Homo sapiens: one gene and its partners. The protein of the gene in region 2 interacts with the protein of the main gene of each other region in a biochemical or structural test. Each region holds a gene or a part of one and is shown on either strand. Other genes may lie near its edges.

Region 1 (3,122 bases), on a different chromosome or scaffold from region 2:
GTCCAAAATCAGGACTAGGGGAGAAGCATGAGGAATGCCCTCCAGGTCCTGATTCAGAAAACTCAGTATAAGAAGGAGATGCAGGCCAGTAGCCATCACTGACCCCGTCTCTGTCCCCTAGAGAGGCAGCCGCTATGATGGGCAAATTGCAGTGTTTGGGGCTGGTTTTCAGGAGAAACTGAGACGCCAGCACTACCTCCTGGTGAGCTGTGGGGTGAGACTGGGGGTGCCTTTGGGAGAGCCAGCCCAGCCCCTCTGGCTAAGGCTGTTCCTGCCAACAGGTGGGCGCTGGTGCCATTGGTTGTGAGCTGCTCAAAGTCTTTGCCCTAGTGGGACTGGGGGCCGGGAACAGCGGGGGCTTGACTGTTGTTGACATGGACCACATAGAGCGCTCCAATCTCAGCCGTCAGTTCCTCTTCAGGTCCCAGGACGTTGGTGTGAGTGCTGACCCCTCTCCACACTCCTGCATCCCAGACCGTCCTCCCATACAGCTTCCCACCCAACATCTTCCTGCCTTCTTCCCAGAGACCCAAGGCAGAGGTGGCTGCAGCAGCTGCCCGGGGCCTGAACCCAGACTTACAGGTGATCCCGCTCACCTACCCACTGGATCCCACCACAGAGCACATCTATGGGGATAACTTTTTCTCCCGTGTGGATGGTGTGGCTGCTGCCCTGGACAGTTTCCAGGCCCGTGAGTGCTTGACTTCGGAGGTCAGTCCCTTGCCCACAGCTGTGCCAGTCCCACTTCTGACCCACTGCTCCCTTGCCAGGGCGCTATGTGGCTGCTCGTTGCACCCACTATCTGAAGCCACTGCTGGAGGCAGGCACATCGGGCACCTGGGGCAGTGCTACAGTATTCATGCCACATGTGACTGAGGCCTACAGAGCCCCTGCCTCAGCTGCAGCTTCTGAGGATGCCCCCTACCCTGTCTGTACCGTGCGGTACTTCCCTAGCACAGCCGAGCACACCCTGCAGGTAGGAAGCACCCTGGAGACTCCCACCCCACCCAGCTCAGCCCTCAGCTGCAGACCTGTTCTCCACCTGATACCTCATTCTTCCTCCCTCCTCCACAGTGGGCCCGGCATGAGTTTGAAGAACTCTTCCGACTGTCTGCAGAGACCATCAACCACCACCAACAGTAAGGCCACCAACAGAGGCAGATGGGAGTCCAGGGCTCCAAGCATGAGTCTGCAGGACTCAGTCTCACACTTCCTCCTCTCTCTGCAGGGCACACACTTCCCTGGCAGACATGGATGAGCCACAGACACTCACCTTACTGAAGCCAGTGCTTGGGGTCCTGAGAGTGCGTCCACAGAACTGGCAAGACTGTGTGGCGTGGGCTCTTGGCCACTGGAAACTCTGCTTTCATTATGGCATCAAACAGCTGCTGAGGCACTTCCCACCTAATAAAGTGTGTGGCTAGGGGTTGGGACGCTGGGGGCTCAGGGGGACCAGACTGAGCCCAGCAGCTTCTACTTACCTACCTAGGTGCTTGAGGATGGAACTCCCTTCTGGTCAGGTCCCAAACAGTGTCCCCAGCCCTTGGAGTTTGACACCAACCAAGTGAGTGGGATTCTGTAGGGAGCTCCAAGATAGAGATGTGGCCCCTCAGAGCAGAGGTAGGCATTTCTGCATTCTGCAGAGATGCACAGATGCCCAGAGAGAGCCATGCTTGTGCATATATGGGTGTCTACATGTGAGGCAAAGGCAGGCACTCAAACAGATCCACAAATGGACAGTGACCCCCACCCCATGCACCCATGCCTCTGTTCCTGCTCTTGGTCTGGCTGCAGGACACACACCTCCTCTACGTACTGGCAGCTGCCAACCTGTATGCCCAGATGCATGGGCTGCCTGGCTCACAGGACTGGACTGCACTCAGGGAGCTGCTGAAGCTGCTGCCACAGCCTGACCCCCAACAGATGGCCCCCATCTTTGCTAGTAATCTAGAGCTGGCTTCGGCTTCTGCTGAGTTTGGTGAGGCTCCTGGCCCTGGCCCCTCATGCTGTCTTTCAAAGGCCTGAACCTGTCCTGTCCTCAGCCTGTGCTGCAGAAGGAAGATAGGGCCTAGGGGATCTACAGCCAATTTGCTACCTCTCAGGCCTCCTAACCTCACTCCTCCATAGTTTCAGGCTTATCCTCTGGTCCCTCAGTAGGTCTTCTCCCTGCTGCCTACCCCACATCCCAGTTCTTGTGGCAGATTCTTGGCAAAATAAATAAGTAAATAAATAAAGTCCATTGGTTCCTGGGGAGTGTCTAGCTATGGCCTGCAGGTGAGGACAGGGTCACAGAGGTCATGAGCACACATGGGTGAAGACTGGGGCTTCTAGAGGGGAGATTGTAGCATTAATTAAGGGGGCTTCTTGATTTGATCAGGGAATAGTAAGTGACAGGCTTGGCAAAGACCAAGAATAGGCACAGGGCTCCAAGAAGAGTGCAGGAGACAGGGGCTAAGGACTGCCTCAACATCCCCTCCCCTGACAGGCCCTGAGCAGCAGAAGGAACTGAACAAAGCCCTGGAAGTCTGGAGTGTGGGCCCTCCCCTGAAGCCTCTGATGTTTGAGAAGGTGGGTGCCCAAGTGGCAGTGAGGAGTGGGGCTGGGGAGTTTGTGGAGAAAGGTCAGGAGCTAATAAGGTAGTTTTGGAGCCCCTTGGCCTGAATTCTCCCAGCAAGACCCTGGAAGCAGCTCACATTCCCTGAACCTCAGCCTGTCTGATCAAGAGGAGATGTGGGGCAACCCCCCGACAGAACTGTGTGGAGACTTGTGCAGTGACACGCAGTGGGCCACGGTGAGGGGCACAGCTGCAGTGTTAACACTACTTTGACTTGGGCCTTACAGGATGATGACAGCAACTTCCATGTGGACTTTGTGGTAGCGGCAGCTAGCCTGAGATGTCAGAACTACGGGATTCCACCGGTCAACCGTGCCCAGGTAACCCCACCCCTTGAGGCTTGGGCCTGGAGGTGGAGGGCAAACCCTGGCCCTACGCCTTGGGCCCAGACCAAATCTCTTGTCCTTGGCAGAGCAAGCGAATTGTGGGCCAGATTATCCCAGCCATTGCCACCACTACAGCAGCTGTGGCAGGCCTGTTGGGCCTGGAGCTGTATAAGGTGGTGAGT
Region 2 (3,500 bases):
GCAAAGCTGTTTAGAGGAAGACTACAGCATAGCAGTTAAAAGCTCAGGTTCTGGAGTTTCAATCCTGGGCCTGCCATGTCTTAGCTGAGTGACCCTGGGCAAGTTACTTTACCTCTCTGTGCCTTAGTTACTTCGTCCGTGTGTGAAGGTTAAATGAGTTAATATATACCAACTGCTTAGAAGAGTGCCTGGCATATAGTAAGTGTGAGCTACTTGTAGATATTATTGGGAATAACCAAGACATGTTCCAGGGCAGGGAGGTGACCAGCCTGACAGGAGGGGAGGATTTGGAGGAGTGATAGGAGATGGTATTGCAAAGGTGTTTTCGGGACAGGTTGGGGCCAGTCTGCCTGGACATACCCTCATCACTGAGAGCCCATTCTCTTACCTGTGGTACTCTCTTATTCTGTAGGTTGGAGAAAGAGTTACTGAGACAGCTGTGTGAATGTTTGTTTAAAAATGTTGGCTGGGGGCCAGGCGCGGTGGCTCATGCCTGTAATCCTAGCACCTTGGGAGGCCGAGGTGGGCGGATCATGAGGTCAGGAGATTGAGACAATCCTGGCCAACATGGTGAAAACCCATCTCTACCAAAAATACAAAAATTAACCAGGCCTGGTGGTGCGTGCCTGTAATCCCAGCTACTAGGGAGGGGGAGGCAGAAGAATTGCTTGAACCTGAGAGGCAGAGGTTGCAGCGAGCTGAGATCGTGCCACTGCACTCCAGCCTGGGTGACAGAGTGAGACTCTGTCTCAAAAAATGTTGGCTTGGCGCAGTAGCTCACACCTGTAATCCCAGCACTTTGGGAGGCTAAGGCAGGTGGATCACTTGAGGTCAGGAGTTCGAGACCAGCCTGGTCAACATGGTGAAACCCCGTCTCTACTAGAATCACAAAAAAATTAGCTGGGTGTGGTGGCATGTGCCTGTAATCCCAGCTACTCGGGAGGCTGAGGCAGGAGAATTGCTTGAACCCAGGAGGCAGAGGTTGCAGTGAGCCAAGATCATGCCACTGCACTCTGGCCTGGGCAACAGAGTAAGACTCCATCTCAAAAAAAAAAAAAAAAAAAGAAAAGGAAAAAGAAAAATGTTTACTTGGCTGGGCGTGGTGGCTCATATCCGAATCCCAGCACTTTGAGAGGTCAAGGCGGGTGGATCACTTGAGGAGACCAGCATGGGAAACATGACGAAACCCCATCTCTACTAAAAAAAAAAAAAAAAAAATACAAAAATCAGCCGAGTGTGGTGGTGCATGCCTGTAATCCCAGCTACTCTGGAGGCTGAGGCAGGAGAATCGCTTGAATCCGGGAGGCGGAGGTTGCAGTGAGCTGAGATGGTGCCACTGCGCTCCAGCCTGGGTGATAGAGCGAGACTCTCGAAAGAAAAAAGAGAAAAGTTTACTTTTCCCAACAAAGTTGAATAGCTTTTTTTTTTTTTTTTTTTTTTTTTTTTGGAGACGGAGTCTCACTCTGTCACCCAGGCTGGAGTGCAGTGGCACCATCTCAGCTCACTGCAACCTCTGCCTCCCATGTTCAAGCCATTCCTCCTGCCTCAGCCTCCCGAGTAGCTGGAACTACAGATATGCGCCACCATACCCGGCTGATTTTTGTATTTTTAGTAGAGACGGGGTTTCTCCATTTCCCAGGCTGGTCTCGAACTCCTGCCCTCAGGCGATCCACCCACCTTAGCCTCCCAAAGGATTACAGGCGTGAGCCACTGTGCCCAGCTTAAAATTGAATAGCTCTTGAACTCAAAATTTGTCTTTCTAATATCTCAGAAATTTACCTTGCATATTGTAAACATCCAGTGTAGTGTGACAGTCACTGTGTCCAAAGATGAGCATAGGTGCTATGGAAGGCTCCCACAGGTGCTGAACTGGGGCAGGGGTGGAGGTTTGAAAGCAACTTTTTTTTTTTTTTTTTTTTGAGGCGGAGTCTCGCTCTTTCACCCAGGCTGGAGTACAATGGTGTGATCTTGGTTCACTGCAACCTCCGCCTCCCGGGTTCAAGCAATTCTTCTGCCTCAGCCTCCTGAGTAGCTGGGATTACAGGCGCACGCCACCACGCCTGGCTAATTTTTGCATTTTTGTTTTTTTTTGTTTTTTTTTTGAGATGGAATCTTGCTCTGGCGCCCATGCTGGAGTGCAGTGGTGCGATCTCGGCTCACTGCAAGCTCCACCTCCCAGGTTCACGCCATTCTTCTGCCTCAGCCTCCCGAGTAGCCAGGACTACAAGTGCCCGCCACCATGCCCAGCTAATTTTTTTGTATTTTTAGTAGAGACGGGGTTTCACCATGTTAGTCAGGATGGTCTCGATCTCCTGACCTTATGATCCTCCTGCCTCGGTCTCCCAAAGTGCTGGGATTACAGGCGTGAGCCACCATGCCCGGCCCCCAATTTTTGTATTTTTAGTAGAGCTGGGGTTTCACCATGTTGGTTAGGCTGGTCTCAAACTCCTGACCTTGTGATCCGCCCACCTCGGCCTCCCAAAATTCTAGGATTACAGATGTGAGCCACTGCGCCTGGCCGAAAGCAACTCTTGATTGAGAAGTTGAGGTCTCAGATGTAATATTCTTGCTTCTTGTCTTCTCTTTCCTTTTTTTTTTTTTTTTTTTTGAGACGCAGTCTCGCTCTGTCGCCCAAGCTGGAGTGCAGTGGCACGATCTTGGCTCACTGCAACCTTCACCTCTGGGTTCAAGCAATTCTCCCTGCCTCAGCCTCCTGAGTAGCTGGAATTACAGGCGTGTGCCACCATGCCTGGCTAATTTTTTTTTTTTTTTTGAGATGGAGTCTCGCTGTGTTGCCCAGGCTGGAGTGCAGTGGTACAGTCTTGGCTCACTGAAAGCTCCGCCTCCTGGGTTCACGCCATTCTCCTGCTTCACCCTCTCGAGTAGCTGGGACTACAGGCGCTCGCCACTACACCCAGCTAATCTTTTGTATTTTTAGTAGAAACGGGGTTTCACCATGTTAGCCAGGATGGTCTCGATCTCCTGACTTCATGATCCACCCACCTTGGCCTCCCGAAGTGCTGGTATTACAGGCGTGAGCCACCGTGCCTGGCCTGATTTTTGCATTTTTTAGTAGAGACGGGGTTTCATGGTGTTGGCCAGGCTGGTCGTGAACTCCTAACCTCAGGTGATCCGCCTGCCTCAGCCTCCCAAATAGCTGGGATTACAGGCGTGAGCTACCGCACCCAGCCCTTGTCTTCTCTTTCAACCTTGAAGCAGAAAGTTAAGAAAGTTGCTTCTGGTGGCTGTGTAGTTTCTCCTTCTGACCCTTGCTGCACACATACTCTAGAATTCCAGAGCTGTGTGAGGGATCTTGGAAAGCAGACACCAGTGGCCTCTGTTTACAGATGAGGAGGCTGAAGTCAGTGGTGGAGCCAGGCCCAACATCAAGGTCCCCTGCTCTCTGGGCCTTGCTCCTGCTTTTTAGATGGTTGCTTTTGGTCTTGAGGAAGGGACAAGATGGAGAAGAAGAGGGTTCATTTCAGATTCGGTGGCTGTTT
Region 3 (3,500 bases), on a different chromosome or scaffold from region 2:
AGACCCATTTCTATTAAAAAAATGAAGAAAAGTAGCTGGGTGGGTGGTGTGCACCTTTAGTCCCAGCTACTCAGGAGGCTGAGGCAGAAAAATTGTTTAATCCCAGGAGTTTGAGGTTATGGTGAGTGATGATTGAGCCACTGCACTCCAGCCTGGGTGACAGAACCAGACCCTGTCTCAAGAGGAAAAAATAAATGTTTTGATTTTTTTTTGTCTTTCATGATACCGAAGCAATAAAAAGATTTATAGAACTTGTTATTTAAAAAAAAACTTGGTGTTAAGAGAATCCTGTAACCAACTTAAAATTATTGTGCAGTCTTCTTTTTATTTGGGTGAGAGGGTGTGGTAAATTTTTGGTATAGGGAATACAAAATAAAGAATTGGGCAGTATTGGTAATTCAGTCCTTTATAAATTCTCAAAGCACTTATAATCAGTAGATGTGATACATGGGCAAAATGAACAAAACAGAAAATACTTACTGGTAAATTAAGTATAAATACTCCTATGGTAAATACATTGTTAACATAGAAATATCTAAGTTAGAAATATCCAAGTTCAAACTTAGAAATATGTGAGTTTCTCCTAAGAAATTTTCTGTATAACCAAGTTCCAGATGAGCAAAAGACATTGGTTTGTTATGGAACCTCTGTAGAATAGGAAATGTTTTTAGTAGTTCAGATGTATTTTTTTCTTACCTTGTTGAGAACAAAACAGAATTATGTTTTTCAGGTTGCCATGGCTCCGTAGAAAAGAGCTCCTCTGGGAGAATAACGTTAGGAGAGCAGGCAGCTGCCCTAGCAAACCCTCATGACCGTGTGGTGGCTTTAAGGAGAGTGACTGCTGCTGCTCAGGTTCTTCTGGCCAGAACCATGGTCATGAGAGCGCTGTCTCTTCTCTCAGTCAGGTAAGTGTTATTTTATGTCACATGATGCTAAGTTAACTTCTAGTGTACATTAGCTGGAAGTCTGGTGGTGTTTGGGAGGGTGAGATAGAATTTTAGAAGCTTGAATATGTACTGTTGAATGAAAGATGTTAGACGTAGTCATTGTTATTCACTCAATCGGTCATTCAGTTAATACTTGGCTCTTTTTAGGTAGAAAATAATGCCATTATCACAACTGAGTAAACTGCATACATTTTATTTTGTTGCTTGAAATGGGAAACTAAGGCTGTTGATCCCAATGGTGCTGGATCAAAAACTAAAGGTCAAAATGTATTGACCGTCTGTGTAGCTAAGTCAGCCTGCAGATGCCATCATGGGGATCCTTGCCGTGTTGATACTGTGGAGTGTAATGTAAAAAGGGGATGAGAACCAGAAATACCTAAAAGACAGCTGTTTAAGAAGTGATTAAGCAGGAGTATTTAATGGCAAATCAGTGAAGGCAGAAAGATCCTGAAAGAAAAACAAAATTTCCATAAGACTGTGTGCTATTGGCTCAAGGATAGGCAAATAGGATAGTACAGAAGAGAGTTAAGAAACTGACCCATACATATAAATAAACACTTGATTTATGGTTTGATTTATGACAGTGGTTCACACTGTAGAGCAATAGAGAAAGGCTGTTTTTTTCAGTAACTGAAGCAGGGTCTGATGGTTTATCCACATAGAAAAAAAAAGCCTTGGTCCCAACCTCAAACTATATAAAGCAAATAGTTATAAAGTGGCTATTAGATCTAAATATAAAAGAAAAATAAATCAATAAAGTTTATTGAAGGTAACATAGAAGAATTGCTTCTTGGTCTTGGGACAAGCAAAAATTCCTCAAGCAAGTCACAAAAGGAATCTGCCATAAAAGATTGATAAATTGGAATACAATAAAATAGAAAACCTCTGTTTAGCAAAAGTGATTTGAAAAGTAAGAAAGTAAAAAAGCAAGCCATAGAATGGGAGAAGATATTAGTAATGCATCTAACCAACAGAATGTGTAAAGAATTCCTATAAATTAACAAGAAAAAGACAACCCAGAAGAAAGTGGACAAAACACATTAAGAAGTGTTTCACAAAAGAGGATCTCCAAATGGCCAATAAACATGAAAAGATGTTCAACCTCAGTGAGTCTTCAGAGAAATGAAAATTAAAATCCAGTGTGATTGGGAGGCCAAGACGGGAAGAACCCTTGAGCCAGGAGTTTGAGACCAGCCTGGGAAACATAGTGAGACCCTGTCTCAAAAAAAAAAAAAAAAAAACCTAAGACAAAAAACCCACCAATGAGATACCATTGCACACCCACAAGAATGGCAAACATTTAAAACACTAGAGAGAAAAAAGTGACTGAAACAGCTAAAACTCCCATACATTGTTAGTGAGAAAATGAATTGGTATAACCACTTTGGAAAACTGTTCGATAGTATCAACTAAAACTGAACAGGAACATACTCTGTGACCCAGAGATCCACTTCTGGGTATATATCCAACAGAAATACTTAAATATGTGCCCCCTAAAGACCAATCATTCATGGTAGTACTATTCATAATAGCCCCATGTTGGAAACCGCCTGATTGTCATCTGTAGGGATAAATGAACTGTGGCAGATTTCATGTATATGTCAATGAAAACGAACTGCTCAATGCTACAAGATTTGGATGAATCTTACAAACATAATATTGAAGAAGCCAGACACAAAAGAGTACATATATTAATTATTCAATTGATGTAAAGTTCAAAAACAGGCAAAACTAACTTGTAGCTTTAGAAGTCAGGATAGTGGTTACTTCTGAGAGCATCGTGACTGAGAAAAGCCCAAAGCAGGTTTCTGAGGTACTGGCAATGTTCTGTTTCTTGATCTGGAGGGCGGTGACATGGGTTTGTTCAGCTTATGAAAATTTATGCTTTGTGAACATTCCTGTTTTACTTTGTCAGTTCAATTGTACTTCAAGTATATGCCAATACTTATTAAAAGGAGAGAACGTTTAGATGCCAGTTTCCAGCTTGATACCTTTGGCAACTCTTAGGACATGTATGGCTAATGATAGTGCAGCTTACATTTTATTATGGTTGTTGATGCTGTGAATGTTATGTGGGACTGCAAATGGTCCCTTAAGAAATCCATTTTCTTTATCCATCTGAGATGTTTTTCTTTACTGGCAGTGGTTCCAGTTGTAGCCTGGCTGCTGGTCTTGAGTCTCTGGGGCTAACAGATATCCGAACGCTAGTTCGATTAATGTGCTTGGCAGCAGCAGGGAGAGCTGGCCTCTCCACCAGCCCTTCTGCCATGGCTAGCACCTCAGAACGATCACGAGGTGGGCATAGCAAGGCTAACAAGCCTATCTCTTGCCTGGCCTATTTGAGCACAGCAGTGGGATGTCTGGCATCAAATGCTCCTAGTGCTGCCAAACTGCTTGTACAGTTGTGTACACAGGTAAGCTACTTTCAGTACTTTTCCCCGTTACATTGATTATTTCTGACTGATTCTTGAGCCTTTTGAAATGAAATATTTTTGTTCCAAAATTACATGTAAAAATTAAGTCTGTTTTTCCAATTGCTTCTTCAGAACTTGA
Region 4 (3,500 bases), on a different chromosome or scaffold from region 2:
AGGCTAAATAATACAATAGTATACATTTTTAAAGAAAAATAGTAATCTTTTGCTCACTCCACTACTCATCCCTCAATCTCACTTTCAAGAGGCAACAACCTTAATTATTTTAGCTGTTTCTTCTGGTTTTACTTCTATATTTCTGTGTTATAGGATACCACATTTTGCTTATCCATTGGACACTTGGGTTGCTCCCACATTTTAGCTATTGCGAATAATTCTGTGGACACGGGTATACACGTATCTCTTTGAGACCCTGCTTTTCAATTCTTCTGGCTGTATACCCACAAGTGGAATTGCTGGATCACATAGTCATTCTGTTTTTAGTATTTTGAGGCATCACCATACTGTTTTCCGTGGCAGCTGCATTTTACATTCCCTTCAACAGTGCACAAGGGTTCCAGTTTCTCCACATCCTTAACAACACTTTTATTTTCCTTTTTTTTTTATAGTGGCCATTATAATGGGTGTCAGGTGGTATCTTATTGTAGCTTTGATTTGCATGTCTGTAATGATGGTGATATTGTGCATTTTCATGTGCTTTTTGGCCATTTATGTATCTTTCAAGAAATGTATAGCCAAGTCTCTTGCCCATTTTTGAATTGGTTTGTTTTATTGTTGTTGAGTTTTAGGAGTTCTCTGTATATTCTGGATATAATCCCTTATCAGATATATGAATGTGCAAATATTTTCTCCCACTCTGTGGTTTGCCTTTTTTACTCTGTTGATAGTGTCTTTTGATGTACAACTTAACATTTTTTCATGAAATTCCAATTTGTTTATTTTTTGTTGTTGTTGCCTATGCCTTTGGTGTCATATCCAAGAAATCATTGCTAAACTTCATGCTGTGAAGGTTTTGCCCTGTGTTTTCCTTTAAGAATTTTATAGTTTTAGGTCTTACATTTAAGCCTGATCTCTTTTGAGTTAATTTTCGTATATGGTATTAGGTGAGTGTCCAGCTTTGTTCTTTTGTTTGTGGATATCCAGTTTTTCCCCACCATTTGTTGAAAAGCCTGTCCTTTCCCTCACTGAATGATCTTAGCACCCTTGTCAAAAAGTATTTGACCATGTATGTGAGGTTTTATTTCCAGGTTCTCTGTTCCAAGGTCTCCAACCCTCAGGCCGTGGACTAGCACCAGTCCACAGCCTGTTAGAAACCAGGTCGCACAGCGGGAGGTGAGCAGCAGGAGGTGAGCAGCAGGAATTCGAGCATTACAGCCTGAGCTCCACCTCCTGTCAGATCAGCAGTGGCATTAGATTCTCATAGGTGCAGGAACCCTACTGTGAACTGTGCATGTAAGGGATCTAGATTGCATGCTCCTTACGAGAATCTAATGCCTGATGATCTGAGGTGGAACAGTTTCATCCAGAAACCATTCCCCTGGCCTGTGGGAAAATTGTCTGCCATGAAACTGGTCCTGGCCAAAAAGGTTGTGACTGTTGATTTATTCCATTGGTCTAGATGTCTGTCTTTATGCCAGTATCACAGTTTTGATTACCGTAGCTATGTAATATGTCTTGGAATCAGGAAGAGTGAATTCTCCAGCTTTAATTATTTTGTAAGATTGTTTTGGCTATTTGGGGCCCTTGAGATTCCACGTGAATTTTAGAATGAGTTTTTCTATTTCTGATAAAAAAAAAAAATTGGGATTTTGAGAGGAATTGTAGTGAATCTGTAAATTTGTTTGGGTAGTATTGATATCTTAGCAATATTAAGTCTTTCTTTTCCCACATAGGCTGATGGGGAAAAAAAAAATTAAGTCTTCCAGTACATGAACATGAGCTGTGTTTCTATTTATTTATGTGTTCTTTAATATCTTTCAGCAATGTTTTATAGTTGTTATTGTACAGGTTTTCATTTTCGTGGTTAATTTTGAAATATTTTTTCTTTTTGATACTATTGTAAAAACTACATAATTTCCTTTTCATCATATTTATTATTAGTTTATAAAAATGCAATTGATTTTTGCGTGTTGACTTTGTATTCTGCTACTTTACTGAATTCATTTATTCTAACAGGTTTTTTGTGTGAAATCTTTAAGGTTTACTGTATATAAGAGCCTACCATCTGTGAACAGGAATAATTTTACTTCTTTCTTTTCTGTTTGTATGCCTTTTATTTCTTTTTCTTGCTTAGTTGCTCTGGCTAGAACTTACTCAAGCATTCTTATGGTGTAGAAATCAGATTGCTTCCGTGTGAATGGGAATAGATACAAATCTTATTTATTGATCCTGATTTTGTATTTTGATACTTTTCATATTTTTATAAAGGGACTTACTTTCCATTTAATGTAGCTTTTAAACTGATTTTCTAAGAAATAAACCTTTTATATTTAATTTTATTTCTAAAGTGGCACAGGGAGTTTGACATGCAGTTTTTTAGCTTTTATTTAATGCCCATCAATTGCTTACAATGTGACTAACAAATTTTTGCATTGCTGTGTTATAATTCTTACTGCCTAATGAAGTTATTTACAAATATATTTGAATTTCTTTATGAAATAAATTGGGAAGTAACATTTCATAGTTGATGTGGAAGATTGCTTTCTTTTCTTTCTTGGGAAAACCCTTTTTATTTTCAGTCATGTGAAAACACTTAAACATATCAGTGTGCTTTTTTACCTGTCTTACAGGATTGTACTGCAGCCTGTCTTGGTTAAATCGGAAGGTTTTGAGGGGTAGAGCTAGTTAGTGGGGTTAGTATGGCCTGACTAGTGGCAGGCAATGTGGCTATTTTTTTTTTTTTTTCAATTTTTTGCTTTTTGCTTTATTTATGTTTTAGCAAAACTGGTGATCCAAGCAAGTGGAGTATTGCATTTTATCTCTTTATTACGTTCACTTTGAAATAAGGATTGAGTGTTTGTTCATGTTTTATTATTTGTTTGTACAAAGTCCTATGAGTAGAATTATTGGATCAAGTAAAAAGAACGTTTTAGACTCTTGATAACATATTGCCAAATTATTTTAGTGCCAGTTTAAATTCCACAAGCAAAGTGAGAGAATGCTTGTCATATCTCATTACTTTTTGCCTTTACTGGGTGCTATTGAAAACAGATCTCTGTGATTTTTAGATGAAAACTTGTATCTTGCTTAAATTTTTATTTTTAAAATTAGTAACAGGAGCAAGTATTTTATTTTATTCGATTTTATTTGTTTTTTTTTGGAGGGGGGGGACAGAGTCTTGTTCTGTCGCCCAGGATGGAGGGCGGTGGCGCTGTCTCGGCTCACTGCGGCCTCCACTTCCCCGGGTTCAAGCAGTTCTCCTCTCTCAGCCTCCCGAGTAGCTGAGGCTACAGGCATGTGCCACCACACCGGGCTAATTTTGTATTTTTAGTAGAGATGGGGTTTCGTTACGTTGGCCAGGCTGGTCTTGAACTTCTGACCTGAGGTGATCCACCCGCCTTGGCCTCCCAAAGTGCTGGGATTACAGGTGTGATCCACTGCACCTGGCCAACAAGAGCAAGTATTTTAAATGCTTATTACCCGGTTGTCTGTCTTTT
Region 5 (3,500 bases), on a different chromosome or scaffold from region 2:
CAGTTGGAGTTGACAATTCAGTTCAGTGACGGGGGGGACTTTTTTTTTTGAGGCAGGGTCTCTGTTGCCCAGGCTAGAGTGCAGTGGTGCAATGTCGGGTCATTACAACCTCAGCCTCCTGGGCTGAAGCAGTCTTCCTGCCTCAGCCTCCCAAGTAGCTGGGATTACAGATGCCCTCTACCACGCCTGGGTAATTTTTGTATTTTCAGTAGAGACAAGGTTTCTCCATGTTAGCCAGGCTGGTCTCATACTCCTGGTCTCAAGTGATCCACCTGCCTCGGCCTCCCAAAGTGCTGGAATTACAGGTGTGAGCCACCACACCCGGCTACCAGGGAGAATTTCTTACCACCTAGTTCAGTGGCAGATCATTAATGTGTCCAAATAAACATGTCGTGCCTTCCCCTGCTCTGCCAGCTCATTTTTTCTTTCTTTCTTTTCTTTTTTTTTTTTTTTTTTTTTGAGACAGTCTCACTTTGTCCCCAGGTGGGAGTGCAGTGGCATGATCTCGGCTTACTGCAACTCCACCTCCTGGTTTCAAGCAATTCTCCTTCCTCTCTCAGCCTCCCAAGTAGCTGGGACTACAGGTGCACGCTACTACACCCAGCTAATTTTTGTATTTTTGGTAGAGACAGGGTTTCACCATGTGAGCCAGGATGGTCTCAACCTCTTGACCTCCCAAAGTGCTGGGATTACAGGCATGAGCCACTGCACCCGGCCAGCCAGCTCATTTTATCTGCGGAAGTGGATGTGTAGATAGTACTACATCTCCAACATGGAGGTGGTCAGAACTGGTAGGTTTGGATTTCCACCTTAGTAGCCCTGAATGTTTGTCCCAGTTAGGATTTCGTGATAGAAGATACCTGCTTGCATTATGGTATTGCCAAATGTAATAGCCATCCTTAAGTTTCTGAGGGTGTTAATGAGATTTTTATGGAGCAAAGAGAGCTTTAAAGTATGATGCCCTCATAAACTCAGCTATTCTACAAATAATAGCTGTTAATGCATTACATTGTAATTACTCTATCAAAGTTTATTCCTCTGACTTGAAATTTTAATCTAGTTCAAATCCTTCAGCATATGTCCTATCCATTTATAATCTGCTATTTTTTAACTGGTGAAAGATGAACTAAAAACTACAGTGGAAGAAAGGAAGTCTTCAGAAGCCTCCCCCACTGCGCAAAGAAGTAAAGATCACAGTAAGGAATGCATAAACGCTGCCCCAGATTCTCCGTCCAAACAGCTTCCAGACCAGATTTCATTCTTCAGTGGAAATCCATCAGTTGAAATAGTTCATGGTATTATGCACCTATATAAGACAAAGTAAGAAAACCCTCTTTTCTTGGGGGTTAGTCAATTTTTTTTTTTTTTTTTTTGCTTTGCTTTAGCATAGTCTCTTGTCCTGAAGGAAAGTGGGTATTTTAAGCTTCAAAATAATAATACTTTTGTCTGTTGTATGTTAGAGAATTCTCAGATGTTTTACATTTGATTAATCTTGTGGATTGGGTCAAAGCTTTTCCTTATAAAAGAAATGCTTGTGGATACACTTAAGAGAATATGTGGGAAAAATGTTTTCTTTTTTTTTTTTTGAAATGGAGTTTCGGTCTCGTTGCCCAGGCTGGAGTGCAATGGCGCGATCTCAGATCACTGCATCTTCTGCCTCCTGAGTTCAAGTGATTCTCCTTCCTCAGCCTCCCAAGTAGCTGGGATTACAGGTGCCCACCACCACACCTAGCTAATTTTTTGTATTTTTAGTAGAGATGGGGTTTCACCCTGTTGGCCAGGCTGGTCTTGAACTCCGACCTCAGGTTATCCGCCCGCCTCAGCCTCCCAAAGTGCTGGGATTACAGGCGTGAGCCACTGCGCCCTGCCAGGAAAATGTTTTCTTAGCAGATAGGCATGGAAGGTGATGGGGAATTGAAAGGACAAAGAAAATGATCCACAGCATCTTTGTAGTCTCATGTCCCCACCAAATCTTTACTGAAGAGGCTGCTAAGAAGTCAGTTAACTCATTACAATTTTATTACCTCTTTTTTACCATTTTCTGTGGTTCAAACAAAGCTTGCTAGAGCCCCAAGGAAAGGAAGCATTTGGCTAGATAATCCACAAGCCCAGCCACTACCTTCTTGGGTAATGGTAGCTGATACCTTAAGGCTGTTCTTGTGCTAACTCATTTGCCAGATCTCTACTGGGAAAACAGTGACTATTCAGGTAGCCATTTTGTTTTTTGTTTTGTTTTTTGTTTTGTTTTTTGTTTTGTTTTTTTTTGAGACAGGGTCTCACTCCATAACTCAGGCTGGAGTGCAGTGGTGCAATCCTGGCTCACTGCAACCTCCCCTCCCGGGTTCAAGCAATTCTCCTGCCTCAGAGTAGCTGGGACCACAGGTGCACACCACCACGCCCAGTTAATTTTTTTTTTTTTTTTGGCAGAGATGGGGTTTCATCATGTTGGCTAGGCTGGTCTCGAACTCCTAACCTCAAGTGATCAGCCCACCTCAGCCTCCCAAAGTGTTGGGATTACAGGTGTGAGTCACTGCACCCGGCACAGGTAGCCATTCTGGATCACAGCTGTCAAGTGAGTTTGCAGCATTTCAAAAAACAAATTGCATTGTGGGAGGATTTTCTTTCCTCTCTATTCCAGCCATCTCAACTTGGTAACACTTCCTGTAATCCTCAGTTACATCCTCATGGTTTAGAATTCTCTCTTGCCGGGCGTGGTGGCTCACGCCTGTAATCCCAGTACTTTGGGAGGCCGAGGCGGGGGATCACGAGGTCAGGAGTTCGAAACCAGCCTGGCCAACATAGTGAAACCCCATCTCTACTAAAAATACAAAAATTAGCCCGGCGTGGTGGCACGCGTCTGTAATCCCAGCTACTTGGGAGGCTGAGCAGGAGAATTGCTTGAACCCAGGAGTCAGAGGTTGCAGTGAGCCGAGACCATGCAGCAAGACTCTGAAAAAAAAAAAGACAGAATTCTCTCGTATATTTAGAGCTGTTTTTTTAGGCCTTTTAAGAGAGGTCCATAGCCAGAGTTGTGCTTTTAAGTTAACCAGTGACAGATTTTTTTTTTTTTTTTTTTTTTTGAGATGGAGTCTTGCTCTGTGGCCCAGGCTGGAGTGCAATGGCGCGATATTGGCTCACTGCAAGCTCTGCCTCCCAGGTTCACACCATTCTCCTGCCTCAGCCTCCCAAGTAGCTGGGACTACAAGCACCTGCCACCATGCCCGGCTAATTTTTTTTGTATTTTTAGTAGAGATGGGGTTTCACCGTGTTAGCCAGGATGGTCTCGATCTCCTGACCTCGTGATCCACCCGCCTCGGCCTGCCAAAGTGCTGGGATTACGAGCATGAGCTACTGTGCCTGGCCACCAGTGACAGATTATTATTCAAACATTGATGAGAGTAAAACACTGCAAATTTACCGAATGCAGATTTATAACCGTAATAAATGTTGAACTGAAGATTAAAAAGTCCAATGGGGGGTATAATATAGAACAGTTCATT
Region 6 (3,500 bases), on a different chromosome or scaffold from region 2:
AAATATCGTCAGTACTTTACACTTCACGTACCTATCTTATCTTACTAAACTGTAAGTATCTTGAGGCTAGAGTTGTGACCTTTTTACAGTTTTTTGCATTTAGTGAGTTCCCAAGGAATTCATTAAGTGAATTCTTTTTTTTTTTTTTTTTAAGACAGAGTTTCTCTCTGTCGCCCAGGCTGGAGTGCAGTGGCTCGATCTCGACTCACTGCAACCTCCACCTCCCAGGTTCAAGTGATTGTCCTGCCTCAGCCTCCTAAGTAGCTGGGATTACAGGCACCTGCCACCATGCCCAGCTAATTTTTGTATTTTTAGTGGAGGCGGGGTTTCACCATGTTAGCCAGCCTGGTCTCGAACTCGAACCTCAGGTGGTCCGCCTGCCTCGGCCTCCCAAAGTTCTGGGATTACAAGCGCGAGCCACCGCGCCCAGCCTCATTGAGTGAATATTAAAATGTTGTGGAGGAGTTAATATTTACAAACAAAATGTTTGCTAATATTTACAAATAAACAAAATGTGTTAATATTTACAAACAAACATTCATTGTGTAAATGAAACACAACACCTTCATTGCCAATTTGTCGAACATTTGAGTACTTACTGTGTGCTAGTCATTGGGGACATAGGGGTGAGTAAGACATGATCCCTATTTTCAAAATTGTTTATCCCTTCTAGTGGAGAAGATAGCACAAAGAGAATGGGCAAAAATGGTTGGGCACAGAAGGGCTGACTGTAAAAGTAGCCAAACTCAGAATACCAAACTGATAGAAAGGTTATGATGAGGTCTTTTTATATCCTCTCCCACGAACATGGTTTGCAGTATCTATTAGGTATGGTAGGACATATGCCAAGAAAACTACACAAATCAGAGTGTTCATTAGTGCAGGGTGCAGTGTGTCTGGATGGGATGTCAAGTGCATAAGGCTATGCAGCATCCCAAGTATTGTCAGTCATGGAAGCTAGATCAGTTTTGGTGGGTTAGGGAAGACAGAATTCAGCAGAGAAGAATGGAAAAGGAATTTCAAGTCTGGAAGCCTGTCTTTACAACAACAACCAAAAAAGTTAAAGAGCCCAGAGCTCTAATAGTCTGGCCTTGTCCTTTGCTCTCCCTTGTGTAATGTATTCATTTCCCATAAACTCTTCTGTTAATCCTTACTGAAAAGAAGGCTGTTGCTGTTATCAAGCCCTATGATAATACTAGCTGTATTTGTAATGTTGACATTAACTTCAGTCTGTTTCCCCTGCAGCCCCTCTGGCTGTACATTCTGGGGCAAGAAGCCATGGAGCCGTAAGAAGAAAATTCTTTGGCAGCTGGGCACGTTGATTGGTGCTCCAGTGGGGATTTCTCTCATTGCTGGCATTGCCATTCCTGCCATGGTCATTGGCATTCCTGTTTATGTTGGAAGGAAGGTAAGAAAGACATGCTGGTTTCTGTGCTTGTTTCAACTTTAGGTTCGTTAGTAAAGGTTTGAGGGAAATGGGAAGGAGCTATGTTTCAGAGCTGCCTGAAAACCAGCTGGTTCTTAGATAAAAATAACCTTACTTTCTTAAATGGATTTTCATAAACCCCCATGAGATCTGAAAGTTCTTATTAACATCCTGGGCCTGGCTTGTCTCAGTGACTTAAAGGTAGAATGCTGGGCCAGGCATGATGGTTCACATTTGTAATACGTGGCCTAGCACTTTGGGAAGCCAAGGCAGGTAGATCAGTTGAGCCCAGGTGTTTGAGACCAGCCTGGGCAACATGACAAAACCCATCTGTACCCAAAAAAATAGAAAAATTAGCTGGGTATGGTGGCATGTGCCTACAGTCCCAGCTACTAGGGAGGCTGAGGTGGGAGGATTGCTTGAGCCCAGGGACGTAGAGGTTGCAGTGAGCCAAGATCGCACCACTGCACTCCAGCCTGCATGACAGACTCCAAAAAAAAAAATAAAAGAAGAAGGTAAAATGCTTACTTCATTCTGCTGGAGTTATTTTGTCTCTTTTTGGATTAACTTTGCCTGTATTACTTTATATCTTCCAGGTCTGAGTTAGGTTAAAATTTGATAAAGATGCCTATTTGGGGTAGAGGATATGTTTTAATATAGATAACTTACAAGTGAATATTCACCTGTCCTTTTTTTCTCTGGCAAAAGATTGATGTCCTAACCTGCTGACCTGGATTTTCTTTTTTTATTCTTAGATTCACAGCAGGTATGAGGGAAGGAAAACCTCCAAACACAAGAGGAATTTGGCTATCACTGGAGGAGTGACTTTGTCGGTCATTGCATCCCCAGTTATTGCTGCAGTTAGTGTTGGTAAGCTAGTCAGGACCACACCTCTTCTCTCTCAGCTTTCTGACCATAGCAGTTTAGCCAGATGGCCAGATGTTTCTCAAAGACTCCTACATTTTATGCGAACCCACCTTGATAGTAAATTCTGTTAGGCACCATGATTATGATTATTTTTAAGTTTTTCAAGCACACCAAATTATCAGAGTGTGCAATCTTTTGTTCTTAAGTTAGTGCCTAGAACTCCATTTGGCACATAGAAAAGGTTGAATTACAGAAACTTATTTTAAGCCCTAGTTTTCACCTTTCATCTTCCTTCTCTACTTGCCATGAAATCCACAAAACAAAATTACTTTTGTTTTGATTTGTTTAATGCTTCACATTACTTTGGGAGGCATAAGAGTTTGTTTTAGAATAATAATAGTGTAACTAACATTTAATGTGGCTCTTCATGTGCCAGGAGTGGTTCTGAGACTTTTGCATATATTAATTTATTTAATCCTCACAATCCTTACAAAAGGAAGCACAATTTTAATAGAAAGGTGCAGTAATTGGCTGGGCGCAGTGGCTCACGCCTGTAATTCCAGTGTTTTGGGAGGCCGAGGCGGGCGGATCACGAGGTCAGGAGATCGAGACCATCCTGGCTAACACGGTGAAACCCCATCTCTACTAAAAATACAGAAAATCAGCCGGGTGTGGTAGCGGGTGCCTGTAGTCCCAGCTACTTGGGAGGCTGAGGCAGGAGAATGGCGTGAACCTGGGAGGCGGAGCTTGCAGTGAGCCGAGATCGTGCCACTGCACTCCAGCCTGGGCAACAGAGTGAGACTCCGTCTCAAAAAAAAAAAAGAAAGGTGCAGTAATTTTCCCAAGGTCACTTAGCTGGGACATGAATCAAGTTAATCTGCCTTCAGATCCTGTTCTCTTAACAGCTAAGCCATTCTACCTCACACAGCAGTAAGATTTTGGAATTAACATCCTGAGGAGATCCTAAACTCCAAGCAGTAGTCACTTATTTAATATTTGATTCTTGATTGGCTCTTGATTGGGTTAGCATTTCAGCAGTGATTAGAAGAGGGGAAAATGAAAGCAACATATATTTACTGTGCAAAACACAGTACATAGCATTCTCATTTGATTATTGACAACCCTGGGAAGATAGGTCCAAGGTTATACAGCTAGTAAATGGAGCCAAGAATCTAATCCAGACCTTTCTGATTTCTAGCCTGGTCAT
Region 7 (3,500 bases), on a different chromosome or scaffold from region 2:
CATGCTTATTGCTGCTGGGTTTGTTATGTAGTTATTGTGAATTCACATTTAGGAATATAGGGTTTTTAATTCTTTGATTTTAGATACTTGTATCTTTTTTCTTTTATATTTAAAACCTTGGTTCCTGATGATATCCCTTCTTAGAAACCCTGTCTACCTTTGGCCTTCAGCCCACCATGCTGTGGTTTTCCTAACTTGCTGCCTGCACTTTTCAGATTCCTTTCATGGATCTTAAATATCATCTGTAAATAAGATCTATGTGTCAATAATTACCAAACTTTTATCTTTAGTCTTGACATCTACCCTGAACACCTAGCTTTGACTAACTCCTAGCTTTGGCATCTCCACTTGGAAATCCAAAAAGTGTTTCAAACTGAACATGTCTATGAAAGACTTATTTTTTTCTCTCTATCCATGCTATCCATCAGGTTTTCCATTTCCATAAGGGTGACTCTTGTACTCTGGTTCCTATATATTATACCGACAGAGCAGCCCAGAGTGCTTCTTAACCAGTGTAAGGCCTGTTATGTCCCACCCTCACTCTTTGTCCTTCAGTGGCTTCCCAGCACACTTAGAATAAAATCTGAAGTCTTAGGCCGGGCTTGGTGGCTCATGCCTGCAATCCCAGCACTTTGGGAGGATGAGGGGGCAGATCACTTGAGGTCAGGAGTTGATGAGACCAGCCTGGCCAACATGGTGAAACCCTGTCTCTACCAAAAAATACAAAAATTAACTGGGTGTGGTGTTGTGCACCTGTAGTCCCAGCTACTCGGGAGGCTGAGATAGGAGAATCACTTGAACCCGGGAGGCAGAGGTTACAGCGAGCCAAGATCATACCACTGCACTCCAGCCTGGGTGACAGAACGAGACTCTCAAAAAAAAATTAAAAAAAAAAAATATGTGAAGTCTTGAATAAAACCCAAGATCTTTACCATGGCCCCTGAACAGGGCAGAGTATCCATTCTTCAGACACTCTTCATAGAATACCATGGTGAGCTGGCATATTTATTATACAATACAGAAACAATTTTACTGGCAGAAAACACATTAAACCGTCTAAACTCTGAATACAGTTGTCCTCATAAAAAATGTTCAACATACTATTTTGAGGTTTTCCATTAATAGTTCTTATAATCTTTGTCCCATTATGTGTTAATCCAACAAAGGATATCCAATAACAAACACCAAAGTTTAAGAAAAATGTGCTAGGCGCGGTGGCTCACACCTGTAATCCCAGCACTTTGGGAGGCCGAGGTGGGCAGATCACCTGAGGTCAGGAGTTCGAGACCAGCCCAGCCAACATGGTGAAACCCTGCCTCTCCTAAAAATACAAACATTAACTGGGTGTGGTGGTGGGTGCCTGTAATCCCAGCTACTCAGGAGGCTGAGGCAGGAGAATCGCTTGAACCTCCTGGGAGGCAGAGGTTGCAGTGAGCTAATATTGCACCACTGCACTCCAGCCTGGGTGACAGAGTGAGACTCCATCTCAAATTAAAAAAAAAAAAAAATTAATGATAGAGAAACTTAAATCAGTTAGATTGTTTTAGGTATAGCCCATCCTTGGTTTTTGTGTGTAGCATCTAGCTTGGGGAAACCCTGGATTTCTGGAATCATATTTAGACACAGTCACACTAGACTAATGTAATTCTTTTGGGATGCAAACCACACGTTTGACACCTTAAATAGCTTTTAGGTATTTGGCTTCCCAGCCCCTATTTTTAGTTACAAGGGGTGTACATGTGTGGGTCAGGGTGGGGGTAGCTCTTTCCGCAGATGATTAGTTTTAGCCATGTTACTAGTTATTGCACACATTATCTGTGTCCTCACAGCAGCCCTGTGAGTAAGTGTATTAGGGTTCTCTAGAGGGACAGAACTAATAAGGTAGATGTATATATGAAGGGTAATGTATTAAGGAGTATCGACTCGTATGATCACAAGGTGAAGTCCCACAATAGGCTCTCTGCAGGCTGAGGAACCAGGAAGCCAGTCCAAGTCCCAAAACCTCAAAAGTAGGGAAGCTGACAGTGCAGCCTTCAGTCTGTGGCAAAAGGCCTGAGAGCCCCTGGCAAACCACTGGTGTAAGTTCAAGAGTCCAAAAGATGAAGAACTTGGAGTCTGATGTTTGAGGGCAGGAAGCATCCAGCATGGGAGAAAGATGAAGGCTCAGCAAGTCTAGTACTTCCACACTCTTATTTCTGCCTGCTTTATTCTAGCTGAGCTGGCAGCTGATTAGATGGTGACCACCCAGTTTGAGGGTGGGTCTACCTCTCCCAGTTCACTGGCTTAAATGTTAATCTCCTTTGGCAACACCCTCGCAGACACACCCAGAAACAATAATTTGTAGCCTTCAATCCAATCAAGTTGATAATATTAACCATCACAGGAAGGTACTAGTATCATATGTTTAACAGTAGAAACCAAGACAAATGCAGCTAGGAAGTGGGAGAACTGGGATCAGATGCAGGCAGTCTGATTCTAAATCAGTTGCTGTTACCCACTCTGACAACAGTAAGTGAGTAGCCTGCTCAGTCAAGTACTATATTAGTAGGGCCCTTTACAGACATATTTATTTCTCACAGTCACTCAATGAGACGGCTCTTCCAGTCTTACAATGGAGAAAGTGAGGCTCAGAGACTTTAAGTAACTTACCTTAGACGACTTTACTAGTAAGTATAAGAATCATTATTTGGACTAAAGTCTTTCTGAATCCTCAGCTTGTATTTTTTTCCAGTGTTCTGTGCTGCCTTTTTATCTACTAGTGTTTTACATCAATTTTGAATCTCTTTACTAACTGGTTAGGTTGATTTTTGCCTTTTTTTTTTAGGTTATTCTATATTTGTCGTTAAGGGTGATCTGCCAGATTGCGAAGCTGACCAACTCCTGCAGATGATTAGGGTCCAACAGATGCATCGACCAAAACTTATTGGAGAAGAATTAGCACAACTAAAAGAGCAAAGGTAAAAATGAGGCCTGCAGTATGGAATATATGGTAGTATTTCATTATGAGAATTAAATTTTCATGCTTAGATTGAATATGTGGTCCTTGTGTTGTTGGCGACTCTATTTTGGACCTTATATTTTAGTGAAGTTTATTAGTTTAAACTTGAATCAACTCTTTGAAATACTTAAATATATTAACTTAGTTAGCTGGTATGGTATATTCCTAGCACTTCGGGAGGCTGAGGCAGGCTGATTGCTTCAACCCAGGAGTTCGAGACCAGCCTGGGCAACATGGCAAAACCTCATCTCTACAAATAGTACAAAAATTAGCCAGATGTGGTGGTGTATGCCTATAGTCCCAGCTACTTGGGAGGCAGAGGAAGAAGGATCACCTGAAACTGGGGAGGTAGAGACTACAGTGAGCCATAATCACACTACCGCACTCCAGCCTGGTCGAGAGAGTCAGACCCTGTCTCAAAAAAAAAAAAAAAAAGAAACGGAAAAAAAAAACTTAGTTGGATTCAAATTGCAACACAATCATTATATTACTAGAGCTTATT

Evidence for each region.
Region 1: of the proteins of UBE2L3 (region 2) and UBA7, one has a biochemical effect on the other in vitro, tested with the Homo sapiens proteins (2 studies listed by BioGRID).
Region 3: the proteins of UBE2L3 (region 2) and HERC1 form a complex in vitro, tested with the Homo sapiens proteins (one large-scale study listed by BioGRID).
Region 4: the proteins of UBE2L3 (region 2) and PIAS2 form a complex in vitro, tested with the Homo sapiens proteins (one large-scale study listed by BioGRID).
Region 5: the proteins of UBE2L3 (region 2) and BRAP form a complex in vitro, tested with the Homo sapiens proteins (one large-scale study listed by BioGRID).
Region 6: the proteins of UBE2L3 (region 2) and RNF19B form a complex in vitro, tested with the Homo sapiens proteins (one large-scale study listed by BioGRID).
Region 7: the proteins of UBE2L3 (region 2) and ATXN3 form a complex in vitro, tested with the Homo sapiens proteins (one study listed by BioGRID).

Annotation. Positions count from the first base shown.
Region 1 is NC_000003.12:49,807,832-49,810,953, reverse strand, and holds part of UBA7 (ubiquitin-like modifier-activating enzyme 7), read left to right. Parts: intron 1-121; coding exon 122-202; intron 203-281; coding exon 282-437; intron 438-525; coding exon 526-691; intron 692-770; coding exon 771-976; intron 977-1,074; coding exon 1,075-1,139; intron 1,140-1,228; coding exon 1,229-1,412; intron 1,413-1,489; coding exon 1,490-1,564; intron 1,565-1,794; coding exon 1,795-1,978; intron 1,979-2,485; coding exon 2,486-2,568; intron 2,569-2,841; coding exon 2,842-2,934; intron 2,935-3,026; coding exon 3,027-3,122. UniProt on the Homo sapiens protein: E1-activating enzyme that catalyzes the covalent conjugation of the ubiquitin-like protein product of ISG15 to additional interferon stimulated proteins (ISGs) as well as other cellular proteins such as P53 in a process termed protein ISGylation.
Region 2 is NC_000022.11:21,574,214-21,577,713, forward strand, and holds part of UBE2L3 (ubiquitin-conjugating enzyme E2 L3), read left to right. Parts: intron 1-3,500. UniProt on the Homo sapiens protein: Ubiquitin-conjugating enzyme E2 that specifically acts with HECT-type and RBR family E3 ubiquitin-protein ligases.
Region 3 is NC_000015.10:63,655,949-63,659,448, reverse strand, and holds part of HERC1 (probable E3 ubiquitin-protein ligase HERC1), read left to right. Parts: intron 1-715; coding exon of another isoform or gene 716-730; coding exon 731-905; intron 906-3,090; coding exon 3,091-3,361; intron 3,362-3,493; coding exon 3,494-3,500. UniProt on the Homo sapiens protein: Involved in membrane trafficking via some guanine nucleotide exchange factor (GEF) activity and its ability to bind clathrin. Acts as a GEF for Arf and Rab, by exchanging bound GDP for free GTP.
Region 4 is NC_000018.10:46,886,508-46,890,007, reverse strand, and holds part of PIAS2 (E3 SUMO-protein ligase PIAS2), read left to right. Parts: intron 1-3,500. UniProt on the Homo sapiens protein: Functions as an E3-type small ubiquitin-like modifier (SUMO) ligase, stabilizing the interaction between UBE2I and the substrate, and as a SUMO-tethering factor.
Region 5 is NC_000012.12:111,679,457-111,682,956, reverse strand, and holds part of BRAP (BRCA1-associated protein), read left to right. Parts: intron 1-1,121; coding exon 1,122-1,320; intron 1,321-3,500. UniProt on the Homo sapiens protein: Negatively regulates MAP kinase activation by limiting the formation of Raf/MEK complexes probably by inactivation of the KSR1 scaffold protein.
Region 6 is NC_000001.11:32,944,310-32,947,809, reverse strand, and holds part of RNF19B (E3 ubiquitin-protein ligase RNF19B), read left to right. Parts: intron 1-1,245; coding exon 1,246-1,408; intron 1,409-2,181; coding exon 2,182-2,296; intron 2,297-3,500.
Region 7 is NC_000014.9:92,082,583-92,086,082, reverse strand, and holds part of ATXN3 (ataxin-3 reference isoform), read left to right. Parts: intron 1-2,579; exon of another isoform or gene 2,580-2,670; intron 2,671-2,824; coding exon 2,825-2,957; intron 2,958-3,500. UniProt on the Homo sapiens protein: Deubiquitinating enzyme involved in protein homeostasis maintenance, transcription, cytoskeleton regulation, myogenesis and degradation of misfolded chaperone substrates.